Homo sapiens: one gene and its partner. The protein of the gene in region 1 interacts with the protein of each later gene in a pairwise test. Each region holds a gene or a part of one and is shown in the gene's direction. Other genes may lie near its edges.

Region 1 (7,027 bases):
AACTCTGTCTCTACTAAAGATACAAAAAATTAGCCGGGCATGGTGGCGCGCACCTGTAATCCCAGCTACTCGGGAGGCTGAGGCAGGAAAATTGCTTGAACCCAGGAGGCAGAGGTTGCAATGAGACAAGATCATGCCATTGCACTCCAGCCTGGCTCTGTCTCAACAAAAAAAAAAAAAAGAAGAAGAAAGGAAAAGAAAATTGAAGTCCTTTGGCAGTATGGTTTCGGTGGAAAGGCATTCATTATCTGATGATTTTTAAATCTGTTTGTTTATTTATTTATTTATTTGAGACGGGGTCTCACACTGTTGTCCAGGCTGGAGTGCAATCACATGATCTTGGCTCACTGGAACCTTCACCTCCTGGATTCAAGCGATCCTGCTGCTTCAGCTTCCCAAGTAGCTGGGATTACAGGCATGAGCCACCACACCTGGCTAAATTTTTTTTTTTTTTTTGAGACGCAGTTTCACTCTTATTGCCCAGGGTGGAGTGCAATGGTGCAATCTCAGCTCACCGCAACCTCCGCCTCCCGGGTTCAAGCAGTTCTTCTGCCTCAGCCTCCCGAGTACCTGGGATTACAGGCATGCACCAGCATGCCCAGCTAATTTTGTGTTTTTGGTGGAGATGGGATTTCTCCACGTTGGTCAGGCTGGTCTCGAACTCCTGAACTTAGGTGATCTGCCCGTTTCGGCCTCCCAAAGTGTTAGGATTACAGGCGTGAGCCACCGCTCCCGGCCCTGGCTAATTTTTTGTATTTTTAGTAGAGACGGGGTTTCACAATGTTGGCCAGGCTGGTCTCAAGCTCCTAACCTCAAGTGATCCACCTGCCTTGGCCTCCCAAAGGGCTGGGATTACAGGCGTGAGCCACTGCACCTGGCCCATAAATCTGTTTATTTTGCCCATAGGTTACATATAATTTTCATAACCACTAGTTGAGGTCTGCCAAACATGTAAATCAGAACTCATAATGCCTTACTTTAAGCCAATTATTACCCTATGTACCTCTACCTCTTGCTATTTATTCCTTCTAACATTTATTGAAAATCTGCTATATACCATGCTTTTGCTACTACATTATGTGCAGTACTTCTGGTAAAAGCCCCTATCTGATTATTTTTCACTTTCTTTTTTTTTTTTAAGTACAGGGTCTTGCTCTTTTGCCTAGGCTGGAGTGCATTGGCGCAGTCCCTGCTTACTGTAGCCTTGACCTCCAGCTCATGTGATCCTCCTACCTCAAACTCCTGAGTAGCCTATAGTCCCAGCCAATCAGGAGGTACACGCCACACGCCACCATGCCTGGCTAACTTTTATTTGTTTTTTTTGTACAGACAGGGTCTCACCATGTTGCCCAGGCTGGTCTTGAACTCCTGGGCTCAATCAGTTTACCTACCTCAGCCTCCCAAAGTGCTGGGATTACAGGCATCAGCCACCACACCCAATCTGATTATCTTTTTAACCAGACAAAACAATAGTACTCTATAAGAATCGTAAAATTTTATTATTAAAAATAGCAGCCGGGCATGGTGGATCACGCCTGTAATTCCAGCACTTTGGGAGGCCGAGGCAGGCAGATCACTTGAGGTCAGGAGTTTGAGACCAGCCTGGCCAACATGGTAAAACCCCGTCTCTACTATAAATACAAAAATTAGCTGGGCGTGGTGGCAGGCGCCTGTAAACCCAGCTACTTGGGAGGCTGAGGCAGGAGAATTGCTTGACCCTGGGAGGCAGAGGTTGCAGTGAGCCAAGATTGCACCACTGCACTCCAGCCTGGGTGACAGAGTGAGACTCCATCTCTAAAAAAACAAAAAAAGAAAAAAGAAAAAAAATCTAGTCCTTCCTTTACATTTATTTTACACATAAGGAAAGCCCAGAAGGGTTAAGTGAACTGTTCCAGGTCACACAACTTGTTAATATGTAATGATGGCTTATTGTGAATTATAGTCAATATCTTCTCTTCCATGAGTCCCCTTTTCATTATAACATTCCATCTTATAGAATAATAGATTTTTGCCAGGCACGGTGGCTCACACCTGTAATCCCAGCACTTTGGGAGGCTTAGGCAGGAAGATCACTTGAGCCCAGGAGTTCAAGACCAGCCTAGGCAACATAGCAAGACCCCATATCTATCAAAAATTTAAAAGATTAGCTAGGCATGGCTTCCTTAATCCTACCTATTCAGAAGGCTGAGGCAGGAGGATTGCTTGAGCCCAGGAGTTCAATGCTGTGGTGAACTATGTTCACACCACTGTACTCCAGCCTGGATGGCAGAGGGAGACCCTGTCTCTTAAAAAAAAAGAGATATCTTTCTATTATGGATCCTATTTCTTAAAAGTTAACTTAGTCCATTTCATAATACACTTGCCACATTTTAAAATTCTATTGAAGCCGGGCGCGGTGGCTCACACCTGTAATCCCAGCACTTTAGGAGGCTGAGGCGGGTGGATCACGAGGTTAGGAGATCCAGACCATCCTGGCTAACACAGTGAAACCCCATCTCTACTAAAAATACAAAAAATTAGCTGGGTGTGGTGGCAGGCGCCTGTAGTCCCAGCTACTCGAGAGACTGAGGCAGGAGAATGGCGTGAACCCGGGAGACAGAGCTTGCAGTGAGCCCAGATAGCGCCACTGCACTCCATCCAGCCTGGGTGACAGAGCAAGACTCCGTCTCAAAAAAAAAATTAAAAAAAAATAAAATTCTATTGAAAATGGTTTTGGTTGGTTTGTTTTATTTTGTTTTTGAGACAGAGTCTCACATTGTCGCCCAGGCTGTAGTGCAGTGTTGTGGTTTCAGCTCACTGCAACCTCCGCCTTCTACGTTCAAGCGATTCTCCTGCCTCAGCCTCCCAAGTAGCTGGGACTACACGCACACACCACCACGCCTGGCTAATTTTTTGTATTTTTAGTAGAAACGGGGTTTTGCCATGTTGCCCAGGCTGGTCCCAAACTCCTGAGCTCAGATAATCTACCCACGTCAGCCTCCCTAAGTGCTAGGATTACAGGCATGAGCCACTGCGTCCTGCCAAATGTTTTAAACTCATATCCAGTCATCTTACAGGGTTGGCTCCATAAAGGAAACAGTTTAATTTTCCTTAGAATTAGCATATTCTGGCTGGGTATGGTAGCTCACACCTGTAATCCCAGCACTTTGGGAAGCTAAGGTAGGCGGATTGCTTGAGCCCAGAAGTTTGAGACCAGCCTGGGCAACATAACAAGACCCTGTCTCTACAAAAAAAATACAAAAATTAGCCAGGCGTGGAGGTGCATGCCTGTAGTACCAGCTGCTTGGGAGGCTGAGGTGGGAGGATTGCTTGAGCCCAGGAGGTTGAGGCTGGCTATCATAGCACCACTACGCTCCAGCCTGGGTGACAGAGCAAGACCCTGTCTCAAAAAAAAAAAAATTATATTCTACAGTGGCATACCTGTAGTCTCAGTTACTCTGGGGACCAGCTGGGACTAGCTAGTCAGACTTTATCTCTTAAAAATAAAAGAATTATTATTATATTCCAGCCAGAGTTAAGTATGGACCTTGTCCCCTGACCTGTTAATAGAGATGTAAAGCTTCAGTTAATCTGACACCCAGAGGGTATCTCTATTGTTCTAGATGTAGTGATTGTTGGGCTAGGTGTCATGGCACGCACCTATATTCCCAGCTATTTGGGAGGCTAGGGCAGGAGGATTACTTGAGCCCAGGAGTGAGGCTGCAGTGAGCTATGATCATACAACTGCACTCCAACCTTGGCAACAGAGCAAGACTCTGTCTCTAAAAACAATAAATAAAAATAAAAAGATACAGTGATAGGTCTAGTGAAGACTCATATTCCATTGATGTTATCTTCCTTTTTTTTTTCTTTCTTCAGGATCTACAGTCTTTGCAGAAATTCAGGGGGTCATTGATGCTTGCATTAAACTATCTGGAATGCCTGATCTCTCCCTTTCTTTCATGGTAAGTTTTATTCTCCTGTTTTATAGCCCCTTGAATGCCTAATACATGTGAAGTACTAAATGAAATGATAAATATTGAGATAAGTTTGCATCTTAGATTGCAAAGGATTATCTCAGAAATATTCCTAGCAGAGTTTCCTAAGACAGTCGCTTACATGATGAGCGTGGTCTTTGTGGAAAGACTAAGGGAGGTCTTTGCCTGAGTGTGCTAGAAGGGGCTTAAAATTGGCTGGCTGGCTTCTGCAAATATCCAGTATCATTTTTACTGAATAATTATTTGCTTTGCTGATATGAAAGGACACTGGTCTTTTGTATCATTTTAGAGTCAGCATGATATACTGCTAGGAACAATTAAGAGAACTGACTTCTGGTGTTGTCACCAGTTTGCTCTGACCTTAAGTCCTCTGAACCTCAGTTTTTTAATCTGTTAAAGGGAAATAATACTACTTGCCTTTTCTCCTTTATAGTTATTGAAATTCAAATAAAATAATGTACATAAAATATTTACAAACTTTAAAGCATTATGAAACTATAAGGTTGTGTAGATGTGGTCATAAACTCTTCCATGACTGCTTTATCTTCAGGGAACATATTTGTCAAGGTATCTGAGTACAGTTCCCATATTCATTATAGTCTATGAACGACTGTCTTCTGTTTTTCTGGCAGAACCCTAGGCTTCTGGATGATGTCAGCTTTCACCCCTGCATCCGGTTCAAGCGTTGGGAATCTGAAAGAGTTTTGTCATTTATTCCTCCAGATGGAAATTTCCGACTCATATCATACCGTGTCAGCTCACAAAAGTATGTTGATGCATCAGCCAGAATCTGCCATCATACATATCAAGTACAACTCACCTTTCCCTGTTTCTTTCTGAAAGTTGAGTACTTGAGGTCATCACTGCTCACTTTAACCATAGCTCACCAGGAGACCCAGTGAGAACGGGTGAAAATACGCACCTAAAATAATCCGTATACTTTGAATGTATGAGTGTAGAGTGGTACTAAGTGAGACTAGAGTAAAATCTATAGCCAAGAACAAGCAAACCATACATAACCTGGGCAAAAATTGTGGTACCGGTCCTTTGCAAGGTTATGCATGGTCAAATTATGGCACTGGTTCTTTGCTCAGGTTATGCATGGTCCATTTTGCTCTGCTTCTGAAAGCTGAGTACTTTGCAAGCAGAGCAAAACGGACCATGCATAACCTGGGCAAAACCATGAACCATTGCCATAATCTTACCATAGTCTGTAGAGTTTGTGGCCAACAAGGAGACAGACCTACCTGTAGTTCGTGAGGACATTCCCCAATTTACCTGCTTCAAGTACGTCTTCTCTGCGTTGAGTTTTTAAGGAACTGTTTAGCATTGAGGGGCCGGGTGCAGTGGTTCACTCCTGTAATCCCAACACTTTGGGAGGCCAATGTGGGCAGATCACTTGGGGTCAAGAGTTCTAGACCAGTCTGGTCAACATGGTGAAACCCTGTCTCTACTAAAAACACAAAATTAGCCAGGCGTGGTAGCGTGTGCCTATATAATCTCAACTACTTAGGAGGCTGAGGCATGAGAATCACTTGAACCTGGAAGGCAGAGGTTGCAGTGACAGATCACACCACTGCACTACAGCCTGGCCAACAGGGTAAAACTCCATCTCAAAAAAAAAAAAAATTTAGCATTGGGGATCGGAGTTATAGGTAGTTTGTTTCTTGAAAATACCAAAAGTTATTTGAGTAACATCATGACAGAACTCAAAAACAGAGAAATTATTTCTCGGCTCTTTTCTTTTCCTTTTTTTTTTTTTTTTTTTTTTTTAAGCCGGAGTTTGGCTCTTGTTGCTCAGGCTGGAGTGCAATGGTGAAATCTCGGCTTACTGCAACCTCCACCTCCAGGGTTCAAGTGATTCTCCTGCCTCGGCCTCCCAAGTAGCTGGGATTACAGGCATGCACCACCACACCCGGCTAATTTTGTGTTTTTAGTAGAGGCGGGGTTATTCCATGTTGGTCAGACTGGTCTCGAACTCCAGACCTCAGGTGATCTGCCCACCTCAGCCTCCCAAAGTGCTGGGATTACAGGCGTGAGCCACCGTGCCTGGCCTGTTTCTTGGCTCTTATCACATAGGAACTGTTTTCATTTATATAAAACATATTTTACATTATTTTTCAGTGGGATCATAATTCATTTTAAACTAGGGCCATTTGCCCCAATTGTTTTTGTTTGTTTGTTTTATGTTATTTTGTTTTGTTTGTTTGTTTTGAGACGGAGTTTCACTATTGTCACCCAGGCTGGAGTGCAATGGTGTGATCTTGGCTCACTGCAACCTCTACCTCCTGGGTTCAAGCGATTCTCCTGCCTCAGCCTCCCAAGTAGCTGGGATTACAGGCACCTGCCACCGCGCCCAGCTAATTTTTGTTTTTTGTTATTTTTTTTTTTTATTAGAGAGGGGATTTCACCATGTTGGCCAGGCTGGTCTCAAACTCCTGACCTCCAGTGATCTGCCTGCCTTGGCCTCCCAAAGTGCTGGGATTACAGGTGTGAGCCACTGCACCCAGCCACCCCAATTGTTTATACTGTTATTAAACTTCAGATTTCTGTCTTGATTTGTATACAGTTCCCAGCACAGTGGTACAAGAACATTATGCTGTACTCAGCTCCCCCTTGTGTAGATACTGAATCTGCAGTTCTAGAGGTACTGCCATCTTGGTATCCTTGGAGGACTGGTTGCAAAAATCAGCAGATGCTCGAGTCCCTTACATAAAATGGTGTAGTATTTGCATATAACCTATGCACATCCTCCTGTATACTTTAAATCATCTCCAAGTTACTTGTGATAGTACACTGTAAACACTGTGTAAATAATTGTTATACCATGTTGACTTTTTATTTTTATTGTAGTTATATTGTTATTTTTTACTTTTTTTTTTTTTTTTTTTTTTTTTTTTTTTGAGATGGCGTCTCGCTCCTTTGCCCAGGCTGGAGTGCAGTGGCACGATCTCAGCTCACTGCAATCTCCGCTTCCCAGGTTCAAGCGATTCTCCTGCCTCAGGCTTCCAAATAGCTGGGACTACAGGCATGAGCCACCACACCCAGCT
Region 2 (7,027 bases), on another chromosome or scaffold:
ATTTTTACTTTGATCACAAAAGCATCCTATTTGCCAGTAAATATTTTTTGGAGCTTTTACCATGTTTTCCCCAGTCAGCATTTCTTAACGTATTTAATGATGACTGTATTTATTTCTGATCTCAAGAGATTGTAATGAGTGCTCTGTTAGTATTTCCTTTTGTGGGGAGTATAATAATTGTCGTGACATGTGCCTGTAAAAACATAACAGTAATGTAACATTCACTTCAAAAAAATCCCCAAAAAAAGATTTAAGGAAAGCATTCATTGCATTTCTTCTTGGAGAAGTTTAAAAAACGGAAAAGAAACCTTTGTTAAGCAAATTTTTTTCCAGAAGAGTATATATGCAAATACTTATAAAGGGCCTTAGAGTATTTGTAGTGTGTTCAGTTAAAAAATAATAAAAAGAACAGCAAAACACTGAAGCAGGATTGCTCCTCAGATTTTTCCTTATTTATGTCACGTGTGTAGCATCATTGTAGCAACATTAGTACAGACAACACATGTCTAGTTTCTATTCTAATACTTGTTCAGTGAAATATTTACCATTTTAGAGTGGAATGATTCAGACCTTTTTCTTCTCTGAATGAATCAAATGCTGTAAGCCTTAGGAAACGTTATTTTTATTGTCTGGATAGTCTGATTTGGGGTTCTGACCCCCTGCAACCTCAGTGAGGCAGCTATCAGATATTAGCTACAACCGCTTCCTTTTCAGTGAGGTGGGAGGGAGGAGCAGAAACAGAAGGGTTCCTGTCACCAGATGGAGAGAAGGATTTGGGTTCTGTTTACATGTCATTGGATTATTCCATCAAAATGTGAGTTCTGTTTTCTTTTATTTTTCTAGTGACAGAGCAGCAAGATACTATTATTACTGGCACCTGAGAAAACAAGTTCTTCATTCTCAGTGTGTGCTCCGAGAGGAGGCCTACTTCCTGCTGGCAGCCTTTGCCCTGCAGGCTGATCTTGGGAACTTCAAAAGGAATAAGCACTATGGAAAATACTTCGAGCCAGAGGCTTACTTCCCATCTTGGGTAAGCACTGTTTTCAAATTCGAAAGAGTGTTTTCTCTCGGGCATTTCTAGTTCGTAGTGTTGCTACTCATACTCTTTAAGAAATGGGAACACAGATGTTCTGTGGCCAAATTCTTTGTGATGCCCAGATATTTAATGCTTAAGAACGTGGTGCACATCATGTCTTCATGTACTTAGTCTGCTTATGGTGAGTGGGGTAGAGAATTGCCATCCATCCTGATAATACAGTGGAGCTTGGAATTTACCAGCCTCCTTTCAGCATTGACATGCCCTTGACCTTCTTGCCTACTCTTACCGAAGCAGTATTTTCTCCCTTTGAAGGCAGAAAAACATAACTCTTTAAAAAGTAAGATTATTCCTCGCTTTCCTTTGCTGCGAGAACAAGTATGTCAACTTCTGGCTCCGGCCTCCATGTCCTCCACTCTCGGGGAGGAACTAACCCCTTCTTTCAGCAAGAAAATGTGGGTTATTCCAACGTGAACTGTCTCAGCTGCGCTTTCTCCACTCCACCCTGTCTGTTTCTCTTCCCGTCCTTCCTCCATGTCTAGGCTGTATTTTCTGTCTCTCTTCTATATCATTAGCCCCTCCCCAAAGTAACTCTTCTTCAGTGAGAACATGCAAAACATGTTTGGTTCTCACCCACCCATCCTTGAGAAAGAAAGTGGGGAGGGAAAGAAGAGCTACTACTCTTGCCTTTCCTTCTCAGTAAAGCATCTTGAAGAGGTAGTGTGTATTTGATTTTTTCAGCTTCTTTACTTCCCACAAGTGTTCCTCAAGCCATTTCCATCTGCCTTCTTTCCCCATCAGTCCACTCATGGTGCTGCCTGTTAGGTTGCTTTATATCAATACAGTAAAGAAGTAAAAAATTAAATATGCACTACTTTTGCTTTATATTGACACCAGTTGCTTTATATTAACATATCCAGCAGACTCTTTTCACTAAATTTTGCTGCTGTACCTGACACTTAACTACTCACATCTTGGGAGATCTCATCCAAATTAATGCTTTTAACGATCACCTATGTGAAGGCAAGTCCCAAATCTGGTTTTTTCCCCTATATCCATAAGGTAGCTGTTTACCCATAGGCCGTTCAAACTCAAGATGTCCTAAATCAAATTCATTTTCTTGCCACCTCATTTCTACGTATTCCTACCTCTGAGTACGTGGGAGTCATACGGAACTCTGCCTTATCACCATTCCTTCTCCCTGTCCTGTCCCATCAACTGTAACACCTTGTAATGTCTGTGCTTGAATACCAATCACCCAGCTTAAGAAATAAAATTATCTTCTATTTTTATTGCCATTAGCCTTCCTAAATGTCCATTGCCTCCTCTCCCTGTCTTAGCTCCTGCTGTTTCTAGGTTCGTGTTCTCAGCAGCACTGTTGCAGAAACTTGTCCCTGCTTCGGTCTTTACTCCACAGCTTGCAGATGAGATGATTTTGCTTCTGACTTAAACTTTCAGGGCCTCCTCTGTCACCTGTGGAGTGAAGCTCAGGCTCCCATGCATAACCTAGAAACTCTCCAGATTATAGTCCCTGCCAGCCATTCCAGCTTCCTTTCTGGTTGTCCTGCACCTTGAACTTTAGGCTCTGGCAACATCCAGCCATTGGTGTGTCTCCATACTTACTGTGGTGTTTCATGCTTCAGGTCTTTCTTCTTGCAGTTCCTTTAGCCAGTGAAGCCCCTCTCTGTTTCACCTGGCTAACTCCTACTCATCCTCCGAGACTCAGCCCAGGTGTCGCTCCTTCTGGGCAGACCATCTAGGTGCCCAGTGCTCAAGAAGAACCTGGGAATAGTGTTTTACATCTTATTTTAAAATGATTTATTTCTTGCTCCCAGTAAACTGTTTCTTAGTGTGTTCTGAAAGACGGGCATAACCTTAACCTTTTCTATTTCATCAGCTCTTCATATTGAGGTACTCAGTAATTTTTTGTTGTGTGACTTAGAGTGCTTCATTTTTTTGGAGAGAAATCACAATGTCTGTCAAACTATTGCTGTCTGTAGCATGTTTGCATTCTCTGGTTGTCATCAGGTGCTCATTGAATATTGATTATTGAAATCCAGTTAGTATGCCAGGGCAACCAGTGTGCTGAGATATCAGTTTCCCCCACCCTTGGGATCACCAAAGCCATCTGCTTTAGTGCCCTTACAAATACTGTTTTCAGTGTGCTTTTGACCTGAAAAAAAGGTTGATAAATAACTGATTTAACTGATTACCATGTGAAAAGAACCTGGAAAGAAAAATCTGTGTAACTTGAGTTCTTAGCAGAACTTGACAACTGACTATTAATTCATCATATTTAATTCTCTGTAAAATATTCAATAGGAAGAAACAAAATGTCAATATAAAGACATTTTAAAACCAAAAAGTCTGTAATTTTTAAATTTTGATTATTTTAAGCACGACTCTTGCTCACATTGCATAATTCTTTCCATCTGTTAAGTTCCTTATGGAATCAGCTAAGACTTTAATCAACACCTTTCTCTTAGCCTGCAGCTGCTGGATACTATATATTTGACATCTGAAAGCCCAGAGTACTGTCTGATGAAAATCTAAGTCACAGTGAATCACAATGAGTGTTTGAATGAAACGGTTTTCTCATAAGTATTCCAGCAGTGTTCATATCAGCCTCTTATGCAAGAACCAAAAATGTTTTAGAGAATTTCTCCCAGTACCCTGCCTTCTTTTGATTAACATTTAGAACCTCCCAGTCTGTGGCTGAAATTTTCTTAAGAGTTAGGTAGGATCCAGAACCTGAAGATGTGCCTACTATAGATGTATTTCATGGTACCAAGTATAAACTTGCAAGTATAAACAATTATGTGTACAAAATTATGAAAGTTTGTGTAGTGTTTTTCTCTTGGTGACTTTAAAGCAAAGATAACTTATTTTTCCTATTTGTTGTGATTTTTCTTCTTAGGTATTCAGCAGTACAACTAAATTGACTCTATAGCTTCTAGTATTAGCTGATTTAGCCTAGTAACATAACAGATGGTGAAAACAGAATGAATTTTCAATGCAAACCAACCAGTTTACATGGCCTATTTTAGCTTCTCATTCTTTCATCATTTTGGGGGTGGGGGTAGAACTTACATCTCTCCAACAAATGTTGCATTGCACACCCCTTGTATCCCAACAGGTTGTTTCCAAGAGGGGGAAGGACTACATCCTGAAGCACATTCCAAACATGCACAAAGATCAGTTTGCACTAACAGCTTCCGAAGCTCATCTTAAATATATCAAAGAGGCTGTCCGACTGGATGACGTCGCTGTTCATTACTACAGATTGTATAAGGTATGAAACGGCAACTAAGTCTTCAGCTTCTGAGAAAAAAACATCTTCTCAATAGGATTGAGAAGGAAAACCGAAGGATTTCATTTCCATTAAAACTTATTTCATTTTTTACATGCTTTTAAAAGAGTTTCATTGAACTGCTTTTTGTTATCGCACGTCAGTCTTGGAGGCCATGGTGCTTTTACTCTGGCCTGGAAGCGGGGTGGAGTATTTTTTAATGGTTCTAATAGTGAGATGACAATTGGCTATAAGATGTTAATCTGACTTTTTTAGTGATTATGGCATTGTTATTTCTCTCCTCCCCAAATCTGCTTTTCTGCTTTGGGGAATAGCATTTGCAACTTCTTTGATAAGTAATTTTTAATATTCCTCAAAGTGAAGCTATACCTGCGTTGTATCCGTCAGTTACAAGAACATTACCACAACAGGTAATGTTTATGGAGTCCTGTGTTTACTGGGCACACTTTATATGTGTTTTTTTTAATCCTCATAACTTTATATGAAAGGTACTTTAATCTTTATTTTACAGTCCAGGAAACTGAGGCTTAAAGAGATTAAATGAATCACCTAAGATCACAAAACTAAATGGCAAAGCCAGGATTTAGTCAAGGCCTTCTTGATAACATAGGCTGTGAGCCTAAGGCACTGTATTCCACACGTTCCTCACTCTCGGAAGTTACTCTCCTTTGTGTCCCGTGTATCTCTAGCCTCGTTTTTCCTTTCTGGGGCAGAGGTCACACACCCAAATAACAACTGGGGCCATGCTCTGCAGGGAATCACTCACAGTACTCTATATCATCTTGTCTTCTCTTCCCCTCCTCCTCCTAACCCCTTTCACTATTCCATAAGTGCCACTTTGTTGGCAAGAACTCCTGAATACCCACTTAAGTATTCAAAGGTGTATTCTCAAACCAAATGGATGAAGTGGTTAAGAGCACTGTAAGTTGAGCCTAACTGCCTAGGATTGAATCTCAGTTTGGCCTCTTACTATGTGACCTCAGGCAAGTTACTTACTTAACCGCTCTGTACTTCAGTTTCCCCATAGTTAAAGGGGACAGCAACATACCTGCTTTTTAGGATTGCTGAATACTAAAGGAATTGTTGGATGAAAAACTGCTTAAAACAGTGCCCAGCACATGTTAAGCATGATGTTAAGTTGGCTGCTGTTACCATTACCATTGATAGTATTATGCTTGTTATCTCTACTTTGCCTTTTGTGGTAGGATTAGCATAGCTAGACCATTGGAAACTGGGCTTTAGTTTGGATGTATTGCTCAGTAATCTTGTTAGCTGGTTCAGAAAACTTAAGGGACCAACTGATGTTTTTTCTATCTCTCTTCTATGCCCAAGAGATGCATTATTAATGCCCCATCTTCCTTGAAAGGCATAATTGAGTTCCATAAGATCTGTTTGGCTAAATTCCTAAAGGACTGAGTTGTAATTTTTTTTTAGCCTGAAGAGATTTTATTTGTGACACCTCAATTGACACAAGAAAATGCAAATAAATGACAGTTTTGATAATTAGTTTATATTTTAAAATGTATTAGAAGTATGAATGATATGTTGGAAAGAGTAAGAGTGTGGCTTTGGAATCAGATGTCAATTAGAAACCCTATGTCACTACTCGCTATAGCTGGGATCCTAGGCAACTATAATCCTGAGCTGTCTATTAAGTGGGGATGATACAATATGCTTCACAAGGTTGGGAGGCTTTGGTGAGATAATGAATCTGAAATAATGAGGTGGAATACCTGGCACATTAGTGAGTGCTCAATAACCATTAATTGCTTTTTGCCTTATTTGCTGGGGAAGCTTGCTATTTTAAAGAATCCTATTAAGAAATAAGAATCTTTTGTTGAAGTAGATATCCCCAATTTATCTTCTGTGTAAAACTTAATTTTCAAGTTTACTTAAAGTATGGCGCTTCTGAATTGCATAGAAAATGACTCTTATCTGCTAAAAAGATTTTTAGTAAAAATGTAACATAATGAAGTGGGGGAAAAGATATTGGCTGATTCACAGTTTTTATTCTTTGGAGAAATTCAGCGGCAGCCATTAAATCTGCTTCATTTAGGAGCTGCTCATAAACGGGAAATAAGGTAGACAAAGGACAAGGGAACATTCTGGAAAAAAAACCCGTTTTGTGCCCCTTTCCCACCAATATATACCGTATACTTGAAAACCAGCATTTTTATGAGCATAGCCTTATTTTGGAAAGCAATCTGTACATCCTTGAAAGCGAAATTGACCAAAACTCATATAATGATGGATTAGTTTCTCCTCTTAAAGCTTATGCTATATGTGTTTTTCTTGATGTAAAAATATACTAGTTGGAAAGAAACAGCCTAAATAGTAGAAATAGGCTGTGTCTTATATTTATAATGCCAGGTGAGGACACATGTTTTAAAAATATTTCATCCCATGTTCATGGGAAAGCTGGCACTAAGCTTAAAAAGATCTCTGCATACTCATTGTGTTTATTGGGAAATCTCATAATGAAAATATTTACTTAGTAATTTCATTTCTATTTTGAACTTTATACACTATATATACTTATTACAGATGAGCACTTAAAGGATGTGGCTGAATTTTAAAGTGAATTTTTAATTGTGGAGGTTTTTTTTTCCCCTTATGCTCATTGTAGTTTATTTTCTACAGTTTATGGTTTAGCTGGTAGATTGTGTATCATATTGGCAAGT

What was found.
Region 2: the proteins of AP3M1 (region 1) and FRMD6 interact in binary tests that used the Homo sapiens proteins (3 or more experiments, as listed by UniProt).

What each region holds. Positions count from the first base shown.
Region 1 is NC_000010.11:74,126,824-74,133,850, reverse strand, and holds part of AP3M1 (AP-3 complex subunit mu-1), read left to right. Parts: intron 1-3,858; coding exon 3,859-3,944; intron 3,945-4,609; coding exon 4,610-4,743; intron 4,744-7,027. UniProt on the Homo sapiens protein: Part of the AP-3 complex, an adaptor-related complex which is not clathrin-associated. The complex is associated with the Golgi region as well as more peripheral structures.
Region 2 is NC_000014.9:51,703,906-51,710,932, forward strand, and holds part of FRMD6 (FERM domain-containing protein 6), read left to right. Parts: intron 1-843; coding exon 844-1,030; intron 1,031-4,172; coding exon 4,173-4,328; intron 4,329-7,027.